Linked DNA regions of Homo sapiens. The protein of the gene in region 3 purifies or fractionates together with the protein of the main gene of each other region. This does not show direct contact. Each region holds a gene or a part of one and is shown on either strand. Other genes may lie near its edges. The genes, in order: POF1B, SERPINA12, EHBP1 and CELSR2.

What was found.
Region 1: the proteins of EHBP1 (region 3) and POF1B purify together in Homo sapiens (affinity purification with mass spectrometry; one large-scale study listed by BioGRID and IntAct). This does not show direct contact.
Region 2: the proteins of EHBP1 (region 3) and SERPINA12 purify together in Homo sapiens (affinity purification with mass spectrometry; one large-scale study listed by BioGRID and IntAct). This does not show direct contact.
Region 4: the proteins of EHBP1 (region 3) and CELSR2 purify together in Homo sapiens (affinity purification with mass spectrometry; one large-scale study listed by BioGRID and IntAct). This does not show direct contact.

What each region holds. Positions count from the first base shown.
Region 1 is NC_000023.11:85,368,098-85,374,434, reverse strand, and holds part of POF1B (protein POF1B), read left to right. Parts: intron 1-6,337. UniProt on the Homo sapiens protein: Plays a key role in the organization of epithelial monolayers by regulating the actin cytoskeleton. May be involved in ovary development.
Region 2 is NC_000014.9:94,486,779-94,489,624, reverse strand, and holds the end of SERPINA12 (serpin A12 precursor), read left to right. Parts: coding exon 1-5; intron 6-2,130; coding exon 2,131-2,322; 3' UTR 2,323-2,346; downstream 2,347-2,846. UniProt on the Homo sapiens protein: Adipokine that modulates insulin action by specifically inhibiting its target protease KLK7 in white adipose tissues.
Region 3 is NC_000002.12:62,987,078-62,993,414, forward strand, and holds part of EHBP1 (EH domain-binding protein 1), read left to right. Parts: intron 1-853; coding exon of another isoform or gene 854-961; intron 962-3,638; coding exon 3,639-3,763; intron 3,764-6,337. UniProt on the Homo sapiens protein: May play a role in actin reorganization. Links clathrin-mediated endocytosis to the actin cytoskeleton. May act as Rab effector protein and play a role in vesicle trafficking.
Region 4 is NC_000001.11:109,257,942-109,264,278, reverse strand, and holds part of CELSR2 (cadherin EGF LAG seven-pass G-type receptor 2 precursor), read right to left. Parts: intron 5,848-6,337; coding exon 5,200-5,847; intron 3,238-5,199; coding exon 3,015-3,237; intron 2,767-3,014; coding exon 2,651-2,766; intron 2,472-2,650; coding exon 2,383-2,471; intron 1,993-2,382; coding exon 1,835-1,992; intron 1,474-1,834; coding exon 1,310-1,473; intron 1,138-1,309; coding exon 1,012-1,137; intron 669-1,011; coding exon 502-668; intron 202-501; coding exon 1-201. UniProt on the Homo sapiens protein: Receptor that may have an important role in cell/cell signaling during nervous system formation.

The DNA.
Region 1 (6,337 bases), on a different chromosome or scaffold from region 3:
TTCTCATTACCTTCAGTCTTTCTTGTATGTCTTACACCAGGCTTTTGAGCTCTTTGACCACAGCTATCAACAGGAAAATGAAGCCAACAGGTCTTGACTGAAGAGGTTCAGATTTTGCAGTCTAAAGACCAATTGCAGAGAAAATTGTATGAAGAAAATGCCCAAAAAGGTCTATGTGGAATGTCTCAGGAAGAGCTGTAAATAAATATGCAATCATGAGGTGAACTTTGGCAGAATAGAACTATGAAGCAGTCTAGTTGGAGTCCCTAGGAATATTAATTTTAAAATCTCCACAACTTTAATTACACCTAAGAATATGTTCTCTAGAAAAGTTGCTTAAATTCCCTATACACATCCCATATCACTCCTCTGCTGCAAAAACCTTCAATGACACTAAGTATCTATAAATTGCTTAGTCTGACTTTCAAGGCCCTCCATGTTAGGGCTCCTGTGGAACTTCCTGGAACTCTCCTTCTGGTGTCCTATGTTTTAGCTAAGTGTAAATGATTGTTCTCTAAATAAAGTCCCCAATTTTCCACAGCTATGTCTTTCACTCCATTGCTCTTACATCTGAACTGCTCCTGCTCCTCACCCTCACCAATCTAGACACCCTGAAATTATACAAATTTTTCAAGCCTTTCCTCAAGTGTAACCTTCTGATCCTCTGATTGTCCCAGGTTGAAGTTATCTCTTAGCCCTCAAAACTTACCTAGTGAGCTTCTTATAGGTCTTATGATAGTCTACTTAATTCCTATTTGTACTCATAGTGTTTATGCCCTACATGATTATAACCATGAGAGGGTAGAGATTATATTCTAACATCATTTGTATCTCTTTCAATGCCACTACACAATAAGTAGTAAAGAAACTGCAAGTTAGTAACTTAGTCACATATATAATCAATCCAGTGAAAATAATATTTCATATTAATACATGGGTTTTTTGTTTTTCACAACTCTTCCATGTATATGATTATCTAGTAAACAACTTGATAGAACCTCAACAATTAGATAAAACATGCATTATTATGTTTATTGTACAAATTGTACGATGTACAAATAAAGACAATATTCATTGTGTATTATTTATCTGTTAAACAAATAAGGAAATTGAGACTCGAATAGCTCAAAATAACTTGCCTATTTAGTACAGCTGGTTAGTGAATGCCCTGAGTTTAAAAACCAGCTCCTGATATTTTCATTACATCAGCTATCTCCCTTAATTAACTTTCGATATTCATGATTTCAGTTTAAATTAGTTCACATTTTTTATTTCAACAAAACATTTGATGATTACCCTTACTGTATATTTTCCCATTCTAATGTTCCATTATCAGAATGGAAAATATCAAAAATACATTAGAGGACAAAAATAGTTTTCCCTCTAGTTTTCAAGGTCTTGCTCAGAAATAATCCTAGAATTCAGGGTATATATTAAGTTTTTAAGGTTTTCTTTCTTTCAAAGGAGAATAACACCTTTTGAGCTTCTGCCTTCCCTTCTTTCTTTACTGCACTGAGCTACTCAAAAGCATTTTCACTAAAGTAAATAACTGAGACATTTAGGCCATTTGCACATCATCTGATTTAACTCTGAAAACAGCTTATATATAAAACTGCCCTTTCTGCACATGTACCCCAGAACTTAAAGTATATATATATATAGTATATATAATATAATATATATAAATATGAATAAAATATATTTATATATATATATACTTTAAGTTCTGGGGTACATGTGCAGAAAGGGCAGTTTTGTTACATAGGTATAAACGGGCAATGGTGGTTTGCTGCACCCATCAACCCGTCACCTACATTAGGTATTTCTCCTAATGTTATCCGTCCCCTAGGTCCCCATCTTCTGACAGGCCCCTGTGTGTGATGTTCCCCTGAAAACAGCTTTTTTAACAAATAGGTGGAAATAAGATATACTTTTATGAATAATGAATTCTCTAGGGAAACCAGAGTTTCCTAGCTCAGATTTAGTGTGTACAAAGGTATGGACAATTATCTCAAGTGATGTAATGAAATTATCCCCAAGCCCACATAATTATAAACCAAATTCTTTTTCATTTCTTTTTTTTTTTTTTTTGAGACAGAGTCTCGCTCTGTCGCCCAGCCTGGAGCACAGTGGCACGATCTCGGCTCACGGCAAGCTCTGCCTCCCAGGTTCACGCCATTCTCCTGCCTCAGCCTCCTGAGTAGCTGGGAATATAGGCGCCCGCCACCACACCCGGCTATTTTTTTGTATTTTTAGTAGAGACGGGTTTTCACCATGTTAGCCAGGATGGTCTCGATTTCCTGACCTCGTGATCCGCCCACCTCAGCCTCCCAAAGTGCTGGGATTACAGGCGTGAGCCACCACGCCCGGCCCCAAATTCTTTTTCACCAGACTCTACTTAAAGTTGCCAATAAAGTATAATGTTTGTGTATATAGCAAGTCTGACCCACAGGAATAAACGACTCAACAAAATGCTGAATATTTTATCAGAAAAAGTAAGGTCTTCCTGCAAAATTGAAGAGATTAGATGATATGAGCATTAAACAAAAATTCAATGGTTTATTGAGTTTTAGAGGCTTGTGAGTACACTCTGTAAATGTACCACGCGTTTTACAAATTCTATTGAGTTTATGGAAACTTAAATTATCTAATCAAGGCTGTTCTCTCACACAGCTACTTGTGGGTGGGTGTCTTATTTTCAGGCCTCCAAAGTTGCTTTTGACACTGAATAATTTTAAAAGTCCCAGTATTTGACCTTCTGTTATAAGGACTAGTCAAACTTAACCATATAATTAGGTTACACAACTTGAAAAACAGAAAATATAATGAAGCAAGCAATAAACGTGGCAAAATATGGTGATTAAGAGCATGAGTTCTGGAGTCATGCTGAGTTGGAATTCCAGCACCTTAGCATTAGCTGTGTAATCTCCATCTGGTTACCTATCCTACCTCTGTCTAACTTCACTTGTTTATGTAATGGGGTTATAATAGTATCTTCTTTATGGGGTTATTTTGAGTGTTAAAGAGAATGATCTATGTAACATGTTTGGCACAGAAAGCTATTAATAGGTGTTAGTCATCATTATAATCATCATCAAAAGGAAAACAATACTGACAAGTTTAAAAAATTTGAAATTGTTTTGTTTGTATGGAAAAATAAGTTGGGAATGGTCTCTTATATTCACAGAACGTCAGAAACAAACTTAAAGATCCTCTAATCCACACTCGCCCACACCCATATCCCATTTCTCATTTCTCACATGAGGAAACAAATCTCAGAGAGAGAACATGAGTTGACCAGTATTACAAAAGTGGCTAGTAGTATAAATGGGAATAAAATCCAGGTCTGCTGACTCCAAGTCTAGCACTTTTTCCACTATGTCATGATAACCACCACCACCCCATTATCGCCTTCAATTATTTGGTCATCAGGAATGTGGGGCTGTGGCACAAAAGGCATAAAAACAAAAACATTGACTGTTCATTGAATTTAATAGTTTCAACATGAAGGATTTAGGTAAGCTATACACAGATGAGTAACAAAATTAAACACTGACTGATACAGGTTATTAAGAGGGAGATTTGGATTGTTATTCCTGGAGTGCTTTTAAAACTAAGATCTCCTTTTCATTCATTCTTTCAAAAATATTTTGGATCACTTTCTATGGAATGGTCAATGGCTATTTATGGGATGACTTGCTGCAATCTTGCCTAGATCTTGATGCCATTGAAAGTACCTTTCAACATCAAGGTTTTGTTCATTCTGGACATTTACTCACACCATCTTACTTAATTTTGTAGACTTCCAGGGAAAAGGGGTTTTCTTTAGCAAGTATTTCTGGAATTAATAAACCTATTTTCAGAGAGGTTTTCCCCCTTATGATCAGCCTAAATCCATACTGATGCAATTTAAATTCATGCTGTTCAACACCATATGTCTAAATATCTTTGACTCATATTAAGCTACATCTTAATGTTGTAATTTTTGAACCTATTATATTTGTTCTCTAATGTTTCCATGAGGGTTGCGTGGGAAAGCCACATTTGTCTAGATGATCAATTTTAATAATGAAGGCTGAAGTAGGGCTAAAAATAATTGAGTACATTATAATCTATGGACTTAATGTTCCAGCTTTCCACATATAAGAAGATTAAAGAATTCCTTCATTTTAGGGCAAGACTAGTCTTTGCTCAAATACAACTGTTTGCCATTTAAACATCTATTATCTTAACATCTGAATAAAGTAATACTGCTTATACTAGCATAAATAAATGTCTTTATCTGTGATGTGTGATGTGTGTGTATTCCTATTTGTTTAAATTTCTGCAGATTTATAAAACTTCTTAGTACGCTTTTGTATCTTAAAAGCTAGTCCAGTTGGCTAGTAAGATTTGCTATGTTTCATTTGCTAATGCCATCATATTTGAATTGGTTACAAGAAGGACAGAGCTATCATTTCTACAACAGCTACCAGATACTAACCATGTGTATAGTTGTCTTCTCAGAATGATACTAGTATAATATTATTAGCCCCAGCCTAAACAGACCAAACATCCTCTAGACATGAATACCTTCACACACTGCTGGTGGATGTATAATTATCATAGTCAAATTTGGGAAATTAGTTGGGCAGTATCTGTTCAAATGAATAACACACATACTCCATGCCCCAGCAATCCCAATTCTGTGTGGGATTCTAAAGAAACATGTTGCACAAGGATGCTCATTGCAGCACAGTGGAAACCTGGAAACAATATAAATGTTAATCAGCAGGAAAACATAAAAACAAGCTATAAAGCAAGCATTTTGGAATACTATTAATTGAAAATAATGAGTTAAAACATGTATCTAGTACATAATACAAGAGATACTGTTTGGTTTAAGTTGTAGAACAATGAAAGCAATAATATTACTATTTATACATAGGTATATATGTAAAGACATCTTAACTGACAACAATAGTCACTTCTGGGTAAGTGAATGGAGGAAAGATGGTCAAGAGAAGGTCTTTAACCTTATCTATATAAATGTTTATATTAAGAATGTGTTCATGTGTTATTCCATAACTAAAGAGCACCCCTCTTTTTTCTTGTCTTCTTGAATCTGCTCCTCTTGGGTCTGTGGGCCAAACCTGCCTGCACATGGTTGTATTTATAACCATTTTCCTAAACTGGATAATGTGTACCTGTTTTGTCTATAATCTGTAATTCTCTGCATTTGTCTGAGCAAGTCTTCTCAATTATTAGCAGAAAATCTGAGAATATATGCAAAAGATTCCTAGAAATACTGAGCCTGCAGTATTGCTGTTGATATAAAGGGTGGTGGAGGATGAAAATGTTACAAGTTCAACAACAGCAACAACAAGAAAGAATTCAGAACATTTGGCAGTTTGAGTAAATGCATAGTCCTGTTTTAAGAATACATGTAACACCTACATTATAGCTATAGTTCTGTATGAGTCTGTCAGTGTTTCCCTTGTAAATTAATGATTCTGATTTTTAATAGTTCCCTTGTTCTACAGAAAAAATATTTATACCTTTGTAGGAAGATATAATGGAGTCGTGCCAATTGATTGTAAATTATGGTAAGGTATGGGGAGATTGAGTAACGCCATCATTTCTTTGCACACTAATGAAGTGATTGCAGTTTTGTTGGTTTTGAGGAAATATGTAAACAATGCCAGCATGATGGACAGATTGATCATTTTATTGGACCATTTTAAAAAATTATATTCTTTCACTTTTACAGATTATTTTAACAACAGAGCCTACTCTGAAATTAGACTAGAAGCAGAATAGACAAAGCATAATTAAGAGTTAGCTTGAAGTGATTTAAAATTAATTACTCTTAGTTGCATTTTCAAAGGTAGTTTGAAATTTACTCTTAAATTTACTCTTCAAACTACCTTCTTCAAAGGTACTTTAAAATTTACTCTTAAAATTACTCTTAGTTGAGTTTTCAAAGGTAGTTTCTTATATTGGTTTGAGAATTATTTTTTCTAAGTTTTATTTTATTTTTAAAATTTTGGGCACATAGTAAATGTGTATATTTATGGGGTGCATAAGATGTTCTGATACAGGCATGCAACGTGAAATAAGCACATCATGAAGAATGGGATGTCTATCTCTTGGTTTGATAATTATTAAATTTTACATCATTTTATGAGAAATTATTTAATGAGTACAATGTACACTGTTCGGTTGATGGTTACTCTAAGAGCCCAGACTTCACCACTATGCAAAATATCCATGTAACAAAACTGCACTTGTACTCCTTAAATTTATAAGAATTTTAAAAAAGAAATAGAACAAATACTGAAAGAAAAGTTTTGTTTGT
Region 2 (2,846 bases), on a different chromosome or scaffold from region 3:
GCGAGGTAAGCCTGCCTAGCCTGGACTCCACTCCCTGCAGCACAGGGGCCTTCCCCCAGCCGGGGCCAGAGCCAGGGTCACAGTGGCTGTCAGAGCCGAGACTCCACCCACCAGTCGGGGCGGGCATGAATGCAGCTGTGCCCCTTACCAACCCCGTGATCCTGGGCAAACCACATAACCTCCCCCAGCCTCATGCTTCCAGTCTTTAAAACTGCTGCTATTTTGGAAATCAATTCAATGTAGCAAACGTTGATCAAGGCCTGGAACAGTTATCAGGCCTAGAACTGGTCTAGGTCTAACCCAGACCCTCTCTCAAAGGCCACATCCGTCTTTCTTTCTTTCTTTTCTTTCTTTCTTTCTCTTTCTTTCTCTCTTTCTCTCTCTCTTTCTTTCCTCTTTCTCTCTCTCTTTCTCTCTTTCTTTCTTTTTCTTTCTCTGTCTCTCTCTCTCTTTTTTTCTTTCTTTCTTTCTTTCTCTCTCTCTCTCTCTCTTCCTTCCTTCCTTCCTTTCTTTCTTTTATTTTGTTTTTTGAAGGAGTCTTGCACTGTCACCCAGGCTGGAGTACAGTGGTGCGATCTCAGCTCACTGCAACCTCCACCTCCCAGGTTCAAGCAATTCTCCTGCCTCAGCCTCCCGAGTAGCTGGGATTACAGGCGCCCGCCACCATGCCCGGCTAATTTTTTTGTATTTTTAGTAGAGACAGGGTTTCACCATGTTGGCCAGGCTGGTCTCAAACTCCTGACCTCAGGTCATCCACCCACCTTGGCCTCCCAAAGTGCTGGGATTACAGGCGTGAGCCACCGCGCCCAAGGCCACATGTTTCATATGAGTTGGCATAAGCATATGCTGCATAGGAAGAGATGACCAAGCAAAGGGGCCTGTGGCCCCTGGCAAAGGTGAGCACCTGACTGTCTGGGGCAAGAAGAGAGCACCATATAGGTAGAGTCACCGGATTTAGCAGATTTCATACAGGATACCCAATTAAATTTGAATTTTAGATAAATGATGAATAATATTTTTAGTGCCAGTATGTTCAGAATATTTCACGGGACACACTTACACTAAAACATATTCATTGTTTATCTTGAATTCAAATTTCAGTGGATGTCCTGTATTTCACCTGGCAACCCTACTTTGGGGTTAAAAAGGCATTGAAGGAGGGGAAAGATTTCAACAAGCAGAGATGGGTGCGGGGATGGGTGCAGCAGTGTGGCCAAGGCTGGGGGTTTTTGGATATCATGGAGTAGTGGGTGGTGGGGATTGGGTGCTTAGTGGAGATAAAGTGGGAGGTTCAAGCCAGTCTGGGAAGGATCCAGCTTGCCAAGCTGAGCCCGCTGCTCTGAATCAGATGGCACAGATTCCACTGTATTTTTCACGTTGACATAAGAAACATAGTTACTAGAATTTTCTCACTTTTGAGCTTTCCTGCCACAGACTTCCCACAAACATTTAACACCAGCTCTGAAGGTCTTGTTGAGTTTAATGGCTCATTTCTTTCTGTAGTTACGTTTGCTGATAGCTGTGATTGTAACACAGGATACTGTCCTGTTTTCTGCAAGTAAAATTGTGAGAATTTTGTAGGCTAGCAAGAAATGTGCCAGGATTTCACACATGCCCGTTAGTTTCCCAGTACTGATCACCTGTTTACAGACGTTGATGCCTTTGGAGTGGATTTGGGATGCAAGTCATCTCAAAGAGCTAATCCAGAATCCTTCTCCCTCTTAACCATCCACCAGGTGGATGAAAGGAGGTGCTGGAGGCTTCAGGGTGGGGGTACCACCACCTCACTTTCACCCAGCTACAGCCCAGTAGACCTTTCTGCCACGGCTATGGTTGATGCTTCCCTGTAACCCATGAGAAAGAGAAGCAAACCCCACTCCATCTCTCCCCCCACCGACTCCCGTAACTGATGCTCCCCCTGCACCATCTTTTCCTTCACACGGCATCTGCTTGTCGAATATTCTCCAGCATTAATGGCGAAAGAGCCAGGAACCCTGGAGTAAACCAAGTTACTGCTGTGCTGGATGGCTTGGGCCAAGTGGTCTTCCTCTCTGATCCTCTCTGGGCCTCCGGCCCACTGTGGTCGCCAAGGAGCTTGGCAGACCTTGACTTTGCCCTTGGCTTCCGTAGGCTGTGCACAAGGCTGAGCTGAAGATGGATGAGAGGGGTACGGAAGGGGCCGCTGGCACCGGAGCACAGACTCTGCCCATGGAGACACCACTCGTCGTCAAGATAGACAAACCCTATCTGCTGCTGATTTACAGCGAGAAAATACCTTCCGTGCTCTTCCTGGGAAAGATTGTTAACCCTATTGGAAAATAAAGGAGAATTCCTGCTTGCCACAGACCCCGAACATGGCTTGGGGTTGAACATGTTCCATCTTCCTGAGATGGAAGTCACAGGCACATTTCAGTTTAGTCTCTCCCTGTCACCACCTCCCTAGACAGCCCGAATGAGCAAAACTGCAAGTTCTAGAAGTCCTGTGCCCCATTTCCTCCCTGCCCATTCAAATGCTGGGATGCAATGCCCCACCCCCGCCCACTTGGTGGCATTCTCCTCTCCCCTCCAGCGGGCAGAGGGACTCTGTGATTTAGTAAACAAATGTTTCTCCCCCACAGCCCTGCCCCAGGTTGACTGGCTGTTGGTGGATAATTTGGGGAAGGTATGGGCCACAGCAAGTACCTGGGGTCTCGAGTGAGAGACTGGGGTTCAAATCCTGGAATGAGGTATCTTTGGGAAAGCCACAAACCCTCTCTGAGTCTGTCTTCTTATTTCTGAAGTGAAGGTCCCGCCCCTCCCTTTGGGGCTCCAAGGAAGCTAGTTCAGTGCTTTAACAAAGTCGGTCC
Region 3 (6,337 bases):
ATAGAAATTAAAGTTAAACCTCTAATATGCAACTAAAATTGCTGCTGTGCCTTTTCAAATGTATAGAATTCAAAATTACTGTAACAATTTTATCACTAGGATTTGGAGAGGAAAAAATATCTACTAAAAATCCTTAATGTCAAAAATTGACTCCATTAATTAATTATGACCCAAAACATTTTACTAGGGATATAAAAAATTATGTAAGACTTTCTCATTCCCGTATATTTAATTTTGGTTGACAATTTTTCCCAGATTTTGCTCTACCAAGATTTATTGTCTTAGTTGTTTTTGAATTTTCCATTGTATAAAGGCATTGTATATGCTAGTCTCACTCTTAATCTATCCATAATGTTTTTATGATAATATTTCATTAATAGCATAAAAGTATTTAAGCCTTCATGAAAATGACAAATATATATATGAGGAATGTGTGCTTATTTATGCATTTAAATCGAATAATCTGATAAAAGTGTAAAATTTAGAAATATTTGATGACTTTGTCACCAAACTAACTTTATTTTTGTGTGCCATTGTTAGAGTTACTTATAGATTACACTTTAAAATACAGGGACTCAATGAGCTCAGTGATTCAGAGACAGCGTGTGGCAAATTGTCAAAACCTTTGCATCTGCTTTGATGTGATAATTCATGTTTGACATAGGAATGTAAAATATAAATGTTAATCCAATAGTGAAAGAGTGACTTAAAACTGATTTCTTAACTTGCTTATCTGTGTCAGACCTGAATTTGAATAACTATACTAAAATACTGGTTTTTCTTCTTTAGTGTTTTGGATGAATGATATAAAATATAAATAATATACTAACATTATTGCTACATGTTCCTACAGATGAAAATGATAATATTGAGATAGATACTAACGAGGAGATCCCTGAAGGCTTTGTTGTAGGAGGTGGAGATGAACTTACTAACTTAGAAAATGACCTTGATACTCCCGGTAATTTCAAATTATAAATGTTTTGTGTCCTGCTGCATGGCAAACTTTATGGTTATATTTTTATTATCTCATCAATAATAATAATAATTTTGTAGTTTTATTACATCTTATGGCCTCATAAACCATTTAGCTTAGTCCACCTTCCATCAATTTTATGTTATTTTGTTTTAGGTTGGATGTTAAAATTAGCAATAACATTGGAATAGCAAATTGTAGTTTGTGTTCTCTTGTTACTAAGATTCACTATTGTATTTTATGTTATGTGAGATAATCTGTAGGTTTTCAATAGCTGGTTCCCTTCTCAGCTTAAATATTTTGGTGTGATGTCAGAAGGTATATATTCCACATGTAAATCCAAACCATGGGATCAGATTTTCTGATTTAGTTTAGAATTATAGTCTTAGTTATAATATTATTTTGCAGATTTTCTGCTTACCTTACTTAAATATTACTCTAGTAAATGATTTTACATATACTTAACTGATTACAATAAGACACTTTGAAAACTATATAGACTGCTGTTAAATTAACCTTATGTCTTATATCAATAAATTGCTTTGGCAATGGACCTTTGTAAGTTCTTATTTAAAATACAAAGATATTTGCTGGTGGTTTTTAATAGGTGAATGTTCCAAATGCATTGCCTTTATAAGCCAGCAGCAAGTAGCAATCCAAAGTTTTGTATATCTGAGGGGTTCCATAAATGCTTGTTGAGTTGAATTCTTATGGCAATAAAAAGTCTTTGGTGATTTCTTTAGACTCAAAGGAGGGAGGCAAAGTCTCTAATATTTATCTTTTCCTGTAAAAAGCTAAAGGGAGTGAGAGCAAGCATACTTTTTCCTATCCATGGCATGCACCTGCAATGCTAATCTGCTCCATTTCTTTCCCTGTTGGAAATACTATTATTACTTCAATAAACAGGTGACCAGGGTTTTCCTGACTATAACGAACACTCAAGAAAACTCATGCCCTTTTGTCAGTAGCTCCTTCATGGCCGGGTGTTAAATTATACTATTGCTAAATAGAAGTCAGTATACTTATAATTGTGCAAGTCCAAAAGAATGCTGATATTTAAGGAAAACTTTTAAATGTTTAACCCAAAATTAGAACTACATTTTACTTCTTTCTGTTTAAAATACTACAGAACTTGGTTAGGTTTGATTTTTTTTTAAAAAAACATTTTTGTTGCTTACTCACCTTCCCACCATAACCACCACCAAAGGCTTTATCGGAAACCAATCACATCTTTTTAATGCTGAGGAGGACATCCATAAGTACTGGATTTAATTTTTTAATACTCAATTTATGGAAGTATAAAAGCATAAAATCAGTAACAATATGTGATGCATATGTCCTGATTCTACAGTAGGTTAGTAACACAGGAAAAAATAGCCATTTCTTAGGTAAAATAAGGGGAGAATTTTCTAGTTTCAGCTGTAGCAACTTTGGGGGATACTTTAAAGATGGGTTAATTTTAATCCTAACAGGCTTGACTCTTGTCATTTTTAAAAACTCTCCTCCTACTTAATGTTTTCCAAAACGAACACACATCTCAGCCTTCCTGTTTGGAGTTAACTAATAAATTGTTTACGGCTCTCAAGCATGCCAGTTAAGTGTTGGCATGGAAGTAGACAGGCCTCCCAGTTCAGATTTATGGTTTATTTTGTGGCAATAAGAAATAGGAATGCAAACTAGAATCTGGAAGCCCTTAGAATATATTATGATTTTTATCCTTGCTTTATTTTCCCCCCAAATTTTTTTCATATGTATATAAGTCATAAGGTTTTAATAATAAATTGTTTAATCTTTATCTTGATTTGACCATAGTTCATCAGATATTGTTTAAAAGAGAAGCCTTGCAATATAAACTGACCAATTTGCATGAAAGTAATGACAATAGCATTTATTAAGAGTCTTATAATTAGAAAAGTTATTAATCTTTATGAAAAATATCATCCAGCAAATGGTGGACATATCTATTGCGACCATTTTATTGAGGAGTTGCCTTTTATTAATTTAAGAATTAGTTGTGTTTCTACTCATTTTGAACTATTGTATTATGAAAGATTAATGTACATTAATACATTCCAAAAATGTAATAATCTGTATTGTATTTCTGCTATCTAAGTAGAGGGTATTTGTAAACATATACCCTGTTTCAATGCTGGTTATATAGGTACATATATAAACACTGGATTCTAATAGTATGTACATGATGATGATCTGAGATAATGTTAAGAATTTGTTTTAATATGGCATTATATTTATAAATCTGATATACTAAAAGAAAACTACAAAATAATATTCAAAATGAAATGTATCTCTTCTTTTAAATATCTAGTTTGTTATAACAGCTTGTTTTATTATGTATAACATACAGTGCTTATATAAATGTATACATCACATACAGGCATAGGTTTTTAGGTAAGCATTAGCTACTATTTAACTATAGTATAACTAAGTTCTCTTTAGATATGTTGACTGTATTCTTTAAGGGGAATGATTTTGGTGGGGGAATATATATATGTAAAGGATTTTTCATGTGTCTAATCTACTAATATCCTTTTCTTCTTTCTTTTAAAATATAGTAATACTTTTCTGAGCTCACATAAAATTGACAGCCTACATATCTAAATGCATCTCACTCAGTTATTCATGGTATTTGCATATTTAACAGAACAAAACAGTAAGTTGGTGGACTTGAAGCTGAAGAAGCTCCTAGAAGTTCAGCCACAGGTGGCAAATTCACCCTCCAGTGCTGCCCAGAAAGCTGTAACTGAGAGCTCAGAGCAGGACATGAAAGTAAGTCTTACTTGTTTAAAACATTTGGCTTAGTATCTGTGTCTTCTAGTTTCTGCCAGGAGTTTGTAATTCCAAAAACAATTTTTTACCTAATTTTTCACCAATATTAAGATTAGGGTATAAGAAATTTTTACTGGTGAGGTGTGGTGGCTCATGCCTGCAAGTCCAGCACTTTGGGAGGCCAAGGCAGGAGAATCAGTAGTTCAAGACCAGCCTGGGCAACATATTGAGACTTTGCTACTAAAAGTAAAACAATTAGCCAGGCATGGTGGTGCATGACTGTAGTCCCAGCTACTCAGGAGGCTGAGGCGGGAGGATTGCCTGAGCCCAGGAGTTCAAGGCTGCAGTGAGTGGTGATCATGTCACTGCACTCCAGCAGCGGAGACAGGGTGAGACCTTGTCTAAAAAAAAAAAAAAAAAATTAATTAATTAAAAAAATTGTATTAAATAGCCAATAAGTAAATATCAATATGGTAATCAGTATTCATATACTATTTTTCAGGGAAACTACTACTTTAAACTGCTATTTCAAGTAAAAATAGAGGCAATATGGAAACTATTCTTGAGTTCTATATGTATGTATATTTTGCTAAGACAAATACTGTTAAGAGAATTCTAGCGCATTTTTCAATAATCCTCAAGCTTCTGCCTATATAGATGAACTAAATGTATGTTATTTGTAAGAATCATCACACCTGAAAATGGTAATGTGATTGAATATAAATGTTTAAGATAACTTGCATGTGTTTTGTGCCATTATGCATCTTACCTTGTGTAACATTTTAGTCAAAAATGCCACATTATAAGACTATTATTAGACTGTTTATATTATTCCCACCCACATGTTTCCCTGCTTTCCTCACAGTGATTAGTATTTCTGTAGCTTTAGGGCACTTCCAGTCCTGTATAACTTTTCACCCACCTGCGGACTATGGGGACTGCCCTGCTGACTGAAAGGATTTCCTTCCCCTGACACAGAGATGCTTTGAAGTCCCAAAACAATGACTTTCATTGCTTTTCCCCTATATTGTCAGTTTCTATAAATTGGTGATGAAAGTGTGTGGCAGCACCAGAGGACTTTTGGTCTCTATCTTTGAACAAAAGGAAGCCTGGATCGGGTCTGATTTTTTGCGTTCAATTTAGCTTTCTGCAGTGGATTTAATGCAGAATGAAGCTGGCCTAAGAATAATACAATAGATTGAAAAGGCTAACTGAATTAGTGGGTTTAGAGGAATACATTTGTAAAGTGGCAGAAGTCCCTAGTCATAAAAAGGTTTCTTAAGATGGGATTTGCTGGCTAATCGCACTGATATTTTAGCATGTTGCCAGGCCTAAAAAAATTTAGCTGTGTTTGTTTATTTTGGTAAAGACTTGAGTATTAGACTATTGGATAGTTATATAACAGTAGAACTCTATTTTTCTTTAAAAAAATAGAATAAAAGCCAAAACTGTTGCTATCATAACTATATGGCTAGGATATTATAAGCATGATATTAATGATAAATTCATTAGATAACTTTAAAAAAATAAAATAGTGTTATTTTCATTATTATGGTTTATCTGTATAGATAAAATTGGTTTTGCTTTCCAAAACACTCTTATATAGTAGTCTTTAAAGTTATTCCAACAAAAGGTGTGCTTTAAACAGCTTGCCTTTGTATGATTCCTTTTAGTTAAGATTTTGAAAATGGTGTTTATAAAGAACATATAGAGTCCATCTGTTCTCTTGAAGCTTTCAGCGTTGACTTGGGTTTTAATTTTTTTTAATAAAATGCAGTTTACACATTTATAAATGAGGCATTCTGTGTTTGTGGAAAAGAATAAACTGTTACCTTCCCCTGAGGATTCTGTATCCCAGGCCTCCTTGAGGCTAGAGAATAGGCCATTGGAGGGCTCCCTCATTACTGATTGTCTCAATGCAGAGGAAGGGCAAAGTCTTGGTAGCTTTTGATAACCAGTTTCAGCATTCAGCAGGCTTAGCTATTAGTCATGCATCTTAGCCTTTCCCTATTTACTTTCAAAACACTTAATAAAAATAATAAAAGATTAGGTATAAAATGAAATATTTGTTTGGTACACAGCACCTCGGTATCTGCAGCTTCCACACACTGCAGTGGTTCAGTCTTCTGGGATATTTCTTGTTGATAGAACCATTTGAATTTGTTACCAGTATTAACATAGGAAGCTCCGGAAAAGATAATTGTAGTTTCCTTAGCTGTAAAGGGCTTACTTACAAATCTGGCTTTGGAAAGTTATAGCTGATGAAATGCAGTTCAGTAGGGTAGTATTATAATCCTACCTTTTAGCCTTCATCCAGCATTAGTGGTTTATCTCAATGGGCATAAAATTAGAAACTAGTTCTTGTTGTCATACAAGTCTGTGGGGCTGTACAAACTGATGACACAGAATAGTGGGGGAAATAGGAGGCAACATGGCTTTTAAATGATATGTATCACTGGTGGAAGACACATTCGTATCAAAGTTATCAAGAGTTAAACCATGTGTCCCAAAGTTTGTGATTACAGGCAACAGAACTTGCAGTTGAGCTCTTTAAAGTGCTTTAAAATCCTTTTC
Region 4 (6,337 bases), on a different chromosome or scaffold from region 3:
CAGCCGGGGGCCCAGGTTGCCCTCTGCTCTCTGCTGCCCATAATCGAAGGACAGAATGGCATGGCCGGGCCCCCCGCTGGCTCCCAGTGCCAGCTGTGCATGGTGCCAGTCACCGTCATTGGCCCGGCCTGGCTCCAGACGGAGAGAGGAGGCCTGAAGCCCTGTGCCCTCCACGCTCAGCATCACGTGGCCCTCTCGTAGCTGACACCAGGAGGAAAGAAAACAGGGTCAGCAGACGGCCTTAATCACTGTTCTCCAGCTCACAGTTCCCCTTTCTGGACCATCAAACCCATCCCGCTGCCCAGCTGAGGCCATAGAGAGGAAAGCGTATTTATTTCCCTCAGGCCCAACAGGTGGCAGCATTGACCTTCCCAACGGATCCAGCGGCCTCTATATGTCCCCACCCCTGCCCAGGACCTGCCCAGCCACTTCTGTCCAGCCGCCTAGAGGCTACCAGGGCCCTATGGCCAGGCCAGGGCCAGCCGCCCTTCCATGCATCACCTGTAGGGTGATGGTGCTGCGCCCCCTGGTGATGGCCTGCAGCAGGACACCGTCGGCCTGGCGCGTGCGGAACATGAGGCTGAGGTACCAGGGTTGGGAGATGGGCAGCGAGAGGCCATGCCAGGCCACCAGGCTGCTGCCCAGGAAGTGCTGTGGATTGGCCATTTCTGGGGAGGCAGGAAAAGGCAGACTGTGACGGGTGGAGCCTCAGAGGGCCCTGGGGCTGTGATGCTCAGCGGTGGCGGCTGCACGGGAGGCAGAGCCCACTCCCCTCATCAGCCCCGCCCTCCAAAGTGCGTACCTGCCCTGGGACCGCCCCACGCTGTGCCCAGGCCTGCCTCTGACTGGCCCCTTTGTCTCCTGTGTTGCCCTTTCAGGGCTCTGCCCAGACACGCTTTTCCACCCACAGCCCCGCTCAGCAGAGCCCTGCCCAGTGCCTGCCCCAACCCTGCCAGTTCCCAGACTGTTGATGGCACCCAGGCTGTGGCCTCTAACAGCCGCCCCTCCTACCCTGGGCGCAGCTCTTGCCCCCAAAGCCCAGGGGGCACTCGCAGCTGAACGCGTCCCACTGGTTCACGCAAGTGCCCCCATTGTGGCAAGTGTTGCTGTCACACACGTTCTTCTTGGCAGGGCAGCCTGGAATGGAGAGAAGGCAGCTCAGTGGACCTGAGCTGGGGCTCTAAAGAGAAAGCCTGTGGCAGCAGTTAGAGAGGCCTCTGAGACCCTCCATTCTGGCATCCTCACACCAGGCACAGCCCCTCCTCTCAGCACTGGGATCCCAGCCTGGCTCCACCCCGGGCCCCCATACCAGGCACGGTGCCATTGTTGGCAATGAAGTCAGCCATGTCTATGTGCCGGCTGTCCACCTGCAGGTTCCGCATGCAGCCCACGAACTGCCGCATTCGGACTGGGAAGCTCTCGGGCAGGTCAGGCACCCCGCCTAGTAGCAGGGGCCCCGTCAGATCCAGAGACCTGGGGGAGCAAAGATGGTGGCGGCACAAGGGAGGGCTGGGAGCTTCTGGTCCTCCGCTCGCTCTGCCGCCAGGCCAGAGACACGAACGGCGTAGGCAGGTGTCCAAGAGGCCCTGCAGAGCAGTGCTCAGGAAGGGCGTCACCCCTACCTGGAACTGTTCTTGTCGAACACTCAGCCCCCTCCCCAGACTGCCCCACAGGGCCTTGCTCTGATTCCCCAGTCTTGACCCCATCCCCAGGGCTGAGCAGGGGCTAAGAGAGGCAAAGGGAGAGAGACCCCAAAAGCCCACCCTCTCCACCTTCCCTCCCTGCCTGGCCCTGCCCTCACTTCACCCCATCCCTGGCCCTTTCCCCTGCTCACTTCTTGCTGCCACCCTGGGTGCCCTGGGCAGCACAGGAGTAGTTGCCCAGGACAGATCCGAAGCGCAAGGCCACTCCTGTGTCACAGCCATCCACGGTCACCACAGCCACCTTCTGCTCTGATGGGCCCTGTGGGAGCCCTGTCTGACCCAACAGTGGCTGTGGACAGGAAAGAGCAGAGAAGGGGGACACTGAGTACAGAGCCCACTAGGTTCATGGCCAGCACACACTGGGTGCCTCTGTGTGCACCCACATGCCCAGACACACGTACACACATGCATATACACACACGTGTGCTCACGTGGTTTATGCATGTAACTACCTTCCTCAGTGTCCAAGTTTGCGGCTGCCTAGTGGAACAGAGAGCATCGAGCAGTGCCCAGTGGGGTGGGAATGCCCAGCAAGGTGGCACCTTCCCAGCCGCTCCCTTCCTCTCAGCCAGAAATGCCCTGACCAGCCCACCCAAGCCTGGAGGCAATGCCACTCAGGGCTGGGTAAGCACCTGAGGCAAGAACAGAACCCCCAACCCTCTGTGCCCTCCACACCCACCTTATTGTAGTATTTCAGCTGCACCGTATGCCACTGGCCATCACTGACTCCTCCGGGCACGAATGGGGACACCGTGGTGGTTGACTCCCCTGGGGAAAGGACCAGGTGAGCTGGAATGCCTGACGAGGGCTAGGAATGGCAGGGTTTGGGGTGCCAGTGGCTGGGGCTGGGCCCAGATTTGGCTGATAGAGTATGTGGCTTGGGGTCAGGGGCTGGAAGACTTGGGGCCTTTGGAAGATGGGCAAGGATGGGGGGCAACTGTGATCACCTGCAGAGAAGGTGAGCTGGACCTGCTCCTGGATCACCTCGAGGGCCACAAAGTCATGCTTCTCATTGAAACGCCCATTGTACAACAGCAACCCGTCGCGCTCCTTTGTGGCAAACCTGAACAGGAGTTGGGGATGGGGGCAGGGAATGGGGTACCCACCTGGATGCCAGCACCCCCGCCACCTAACCAGCGCAGGGGAGGGAGATCTGCTGGCAGAACCACAGGCAACTCCAAGAGCAGACCTGGCTCTGCCGGCAGCCTGCTCCACGCTTTCACTGCCTGACCTCTTACTTCAACCACAGAACAGGAGGCACCTCAGATGCCCACCAGGCCCACTCCCCACCCCCAGTGCCCAGCCACTCACGAGAGGGCCAGGGTGAAGTGGAAACGCTGGCGCAGGCCGCGAAAGGTGATGAAGGAGTGGGCGGGGAAGCTGCGCGTGGTCACCTGGCAGTAGGGCTTCTCGAAGTCTCCAGATGGGCAATCGCACTTGAAACCGCCCACCAGCAGGTTGACACAGGTGCCCCCATTCTTGCAGACACCCGGGGTGCAACGGCCTGAGCGAGCACTCACCTCACAGTGCTCACCTGGACAAGAGGAAAGGCAGGTGAGTACCAAGTACCTGAGGACAGGAGGGGAACTGAGACCCCCCACAACCCAGTGATAGCTCCCATGGCCTCCCGTGACCCTCGTAATACTCCCCAAACCTCCCAGGCATCCCCACTTCCTCTCGTGTGCCATCTTCTCTGAGACCTATGGTCCCCAGCCCTTCATGGGCACCCTGTTTGGCTCACTGAGCCGCTCTCGCCACAGCTCCACGCACTGCTCCCCTGCAAGTTCCTCGGAGTCCCCAGCACCTTCCCTACCCCATTTGGGTTTCATAAGCACAGGCCTGCTGGGACACTTGGTTGTAAGGCCCGGATCCCGGGAGCCTTCGATGTCACACTACCAAGCACACCTGGGGGTGTCCTGGCCCCCAAGAGGGTAAATGTGCACAAGCAGATGGGCCTGCAGGACAGCGGGAGGGCTGGGAGCCTCCCTCCTCCCTCCTTCCCACTGGTGCTTTTGTCCCTCTCAGGCACTGAGATCAGTTTCCCTCCCTGGGGATGGGACCAGGCTTCCACTTAGATTTGTCTGGGTTATGGAAGAGTATGAGAGAGAAGCTGGGGAGCCCCCAGGAATGGGGCAGAGGACTCCCACCTTGAGCCCTGCGGTCCAGACTAAGGACCTCTGTGCACCTGGGACATGCTGAGAGTGGGAAACTGAGCCCTGAGAGCAGACAAGAATTCAACAGAGGAGCTGAAAACTCCAACATCAGATGGGAAAATCCACCCTTCTCTCCCTCCCCATTCCCAGATTCTAGAGATAGGTTCTCAGCTCCTGTGCCTAGTGACTGGCTCTTGTTTCCATGGAAACTGTTGTTCGCCTGCTCTAACCCCCCCCCTCCCAACCCCCCCCACCATCCTCCTGGACAAAGACTTCTCTCCCCTCCCCCAAGCCCGTCCCTCCCCTTCCCCCCACCCCTAGCAGCAGCAGAGAGAAGTCAAGTCTGGCAAGTTCTGGGCAGGAAGATGCAGCGGGGAAGGAGTGGGGCCTGCCTATGGCTGCTGGCAGAGCCAGTGGGCATGGCCCTGGAGGACAAGGAGCAGGGCCTGGGCATCTAGGAAGGAAAGGCCCACAGGGAAGGGGAGCAGGGGGTGTCCTGAGAAGACACAGGAGCCTGAAGGGAGGGGTCAGGAGCATAGAGCAGAGACAGTGAGCATCCCAGGGAGCAGGATGTGTAAAGACCTTGGCTGACAGGCCAACAGGGAAGCCGCCTAGCCAGGATCCTCTTTTACCAGCAGCTGGGCGGAGGCGGAGCCATTCTGCCCAGGCCCATACAGGTGCAATGGTTTTCTGGAGCACCCCATCTCAGAACTCAACCCCCTCCAGTTCCCCCAGCTCTTCTGTGTCTTCCCCTTAATGCCTGGGGAGAAAAGTACTTGCTGCAGCTCAGAAAAGGAACTCGCTCAGTGGGGGAGAGACCAGGTTCTAGGCCCAGCCTCACCTCTAAACCGGGTGTGATGAGACCAGGAGCAAGTCACCCAATCTCAGCGTTCCCTTAAATCAAGGCCAACACCTTCCATGCCACCAGCTGTTTCCAAGTATCAAATTAATTACATTAATCCTCACAACCAACTTATGACCTAAGTACGGTCATTATCTCCATTTCAAATAACCGAGGGCCAGAAAGGTTAAGTAACTTGTTCAAGGTCACACAGCTACTAGCGGCAAAGCTGATACACGAACACAGGCCGACTGGCTCTGGAGCCAGCTCTGCCCACAATGGCACTGCCTGTGTGTCCTGTGCACAGCAGGGAGAAGCACTCCTTGCACTGCCTTCCTCAGTGGGGTGCTGTCAGGGAGCAGGCCGGATTTATGACCTCTCAGTGTAGCTGCACCTCACTCGGGAAGAGAATGAGGCAGCCGCCAGCATTTGTCCTGATTTGTGCCTGCACCACACAGTCAGCCTTCCAGGGCTGGCCCATGAGTCCCCTCCCTTGGCTCACCCGTGTAGCCATCACGACAGAGGCAGGTGTAGCCGCCCTCGCGGCTGCGGCAGCGCCCGTGGGGGCCACAGGGCCGCGAGTAGCAGAGGTCCACCTCGGTCTCGCAGTAGTCACCCGTGAAGCCGGGCGGGCAGCGGCAGCGCAGCCCTCCGACGGGGTGGATGGGCCGGAAGAGCACGGAGGAGGAGGCGATGAAGGGCGCGGAGGAGTCGAAGCGCAGCACCGACACGCAGCGCATGTAGTTCTCGCAGGGCTCCCGCAGGCAGATGTTGTCGTCGAAGGGCAGCACGCGCTGTGCCGAGATGGCCGTCAGCAGGCTGCGGTTGAGGTATAGGCGCTCCTGCAGGTCCTCAGAGGGCAGGAAGGGCGGCCCGCCCCCGGGCCCTGGCGGCTGGCCCACCGACAGGCTCACGTTGAGGATGTGGCCCCCGGGGGCGTCGGTGTCCCGCTGTACGTTGAAGACCACCACGTGGTCCGGTGGCGTGGCCAGCGTGGCGGCCACCGCCTGGATGAAGAGGCCTAGCAGTGGTGACAGGAAGCGCTCGGGTGACATGTCCTCCAGGCGCAGCGTGATGCTGTGGGTGAGCATCTCATCGGTGATGATGGTCACACGCAGCGCGCACTGGGCGGTCACGCTGTGTACGCCGTCTGTGGAGAGGGACACAGTCAGGACCCAGCCTGGGGCTGCAATTCAGCCTGCATATTCCTGCACCACCCACCAAGAAAGGCTCTCCTTTCCAACTGGCATAAGGGTGCTGAGCCAGGTATGTCACGTGTGGGCCAATCACTCCTTCAGGGCTCAGGGGATGAGATTTGCAGTTCTCTTTGCATCCTTTCCCAAAACCTTCTGTCGCTGATGCACGGCACACCTCTTAATGTTTGTGCACCTTTCCCTGCCCAAGCCACCGCTCCTGCTCCCTTCCCCCAGAGTCTGTGCTGCCTGCGCGGGAACCCTATGTTGTCTTTTTCATACTTTTCTACAGGGCCCAGAGCATCCTGAGACCCACAAAAATCATCCCCCTGCCCCCTCAGCCTCTACACCTCAACACCACGATAATCGCAACCATGGCTGTGTTCCCCACTCCCCCACAGCAGCAGGGAGTTGGCGGGGGTGGGGGGGAGTGGGTAAACTGGGTCA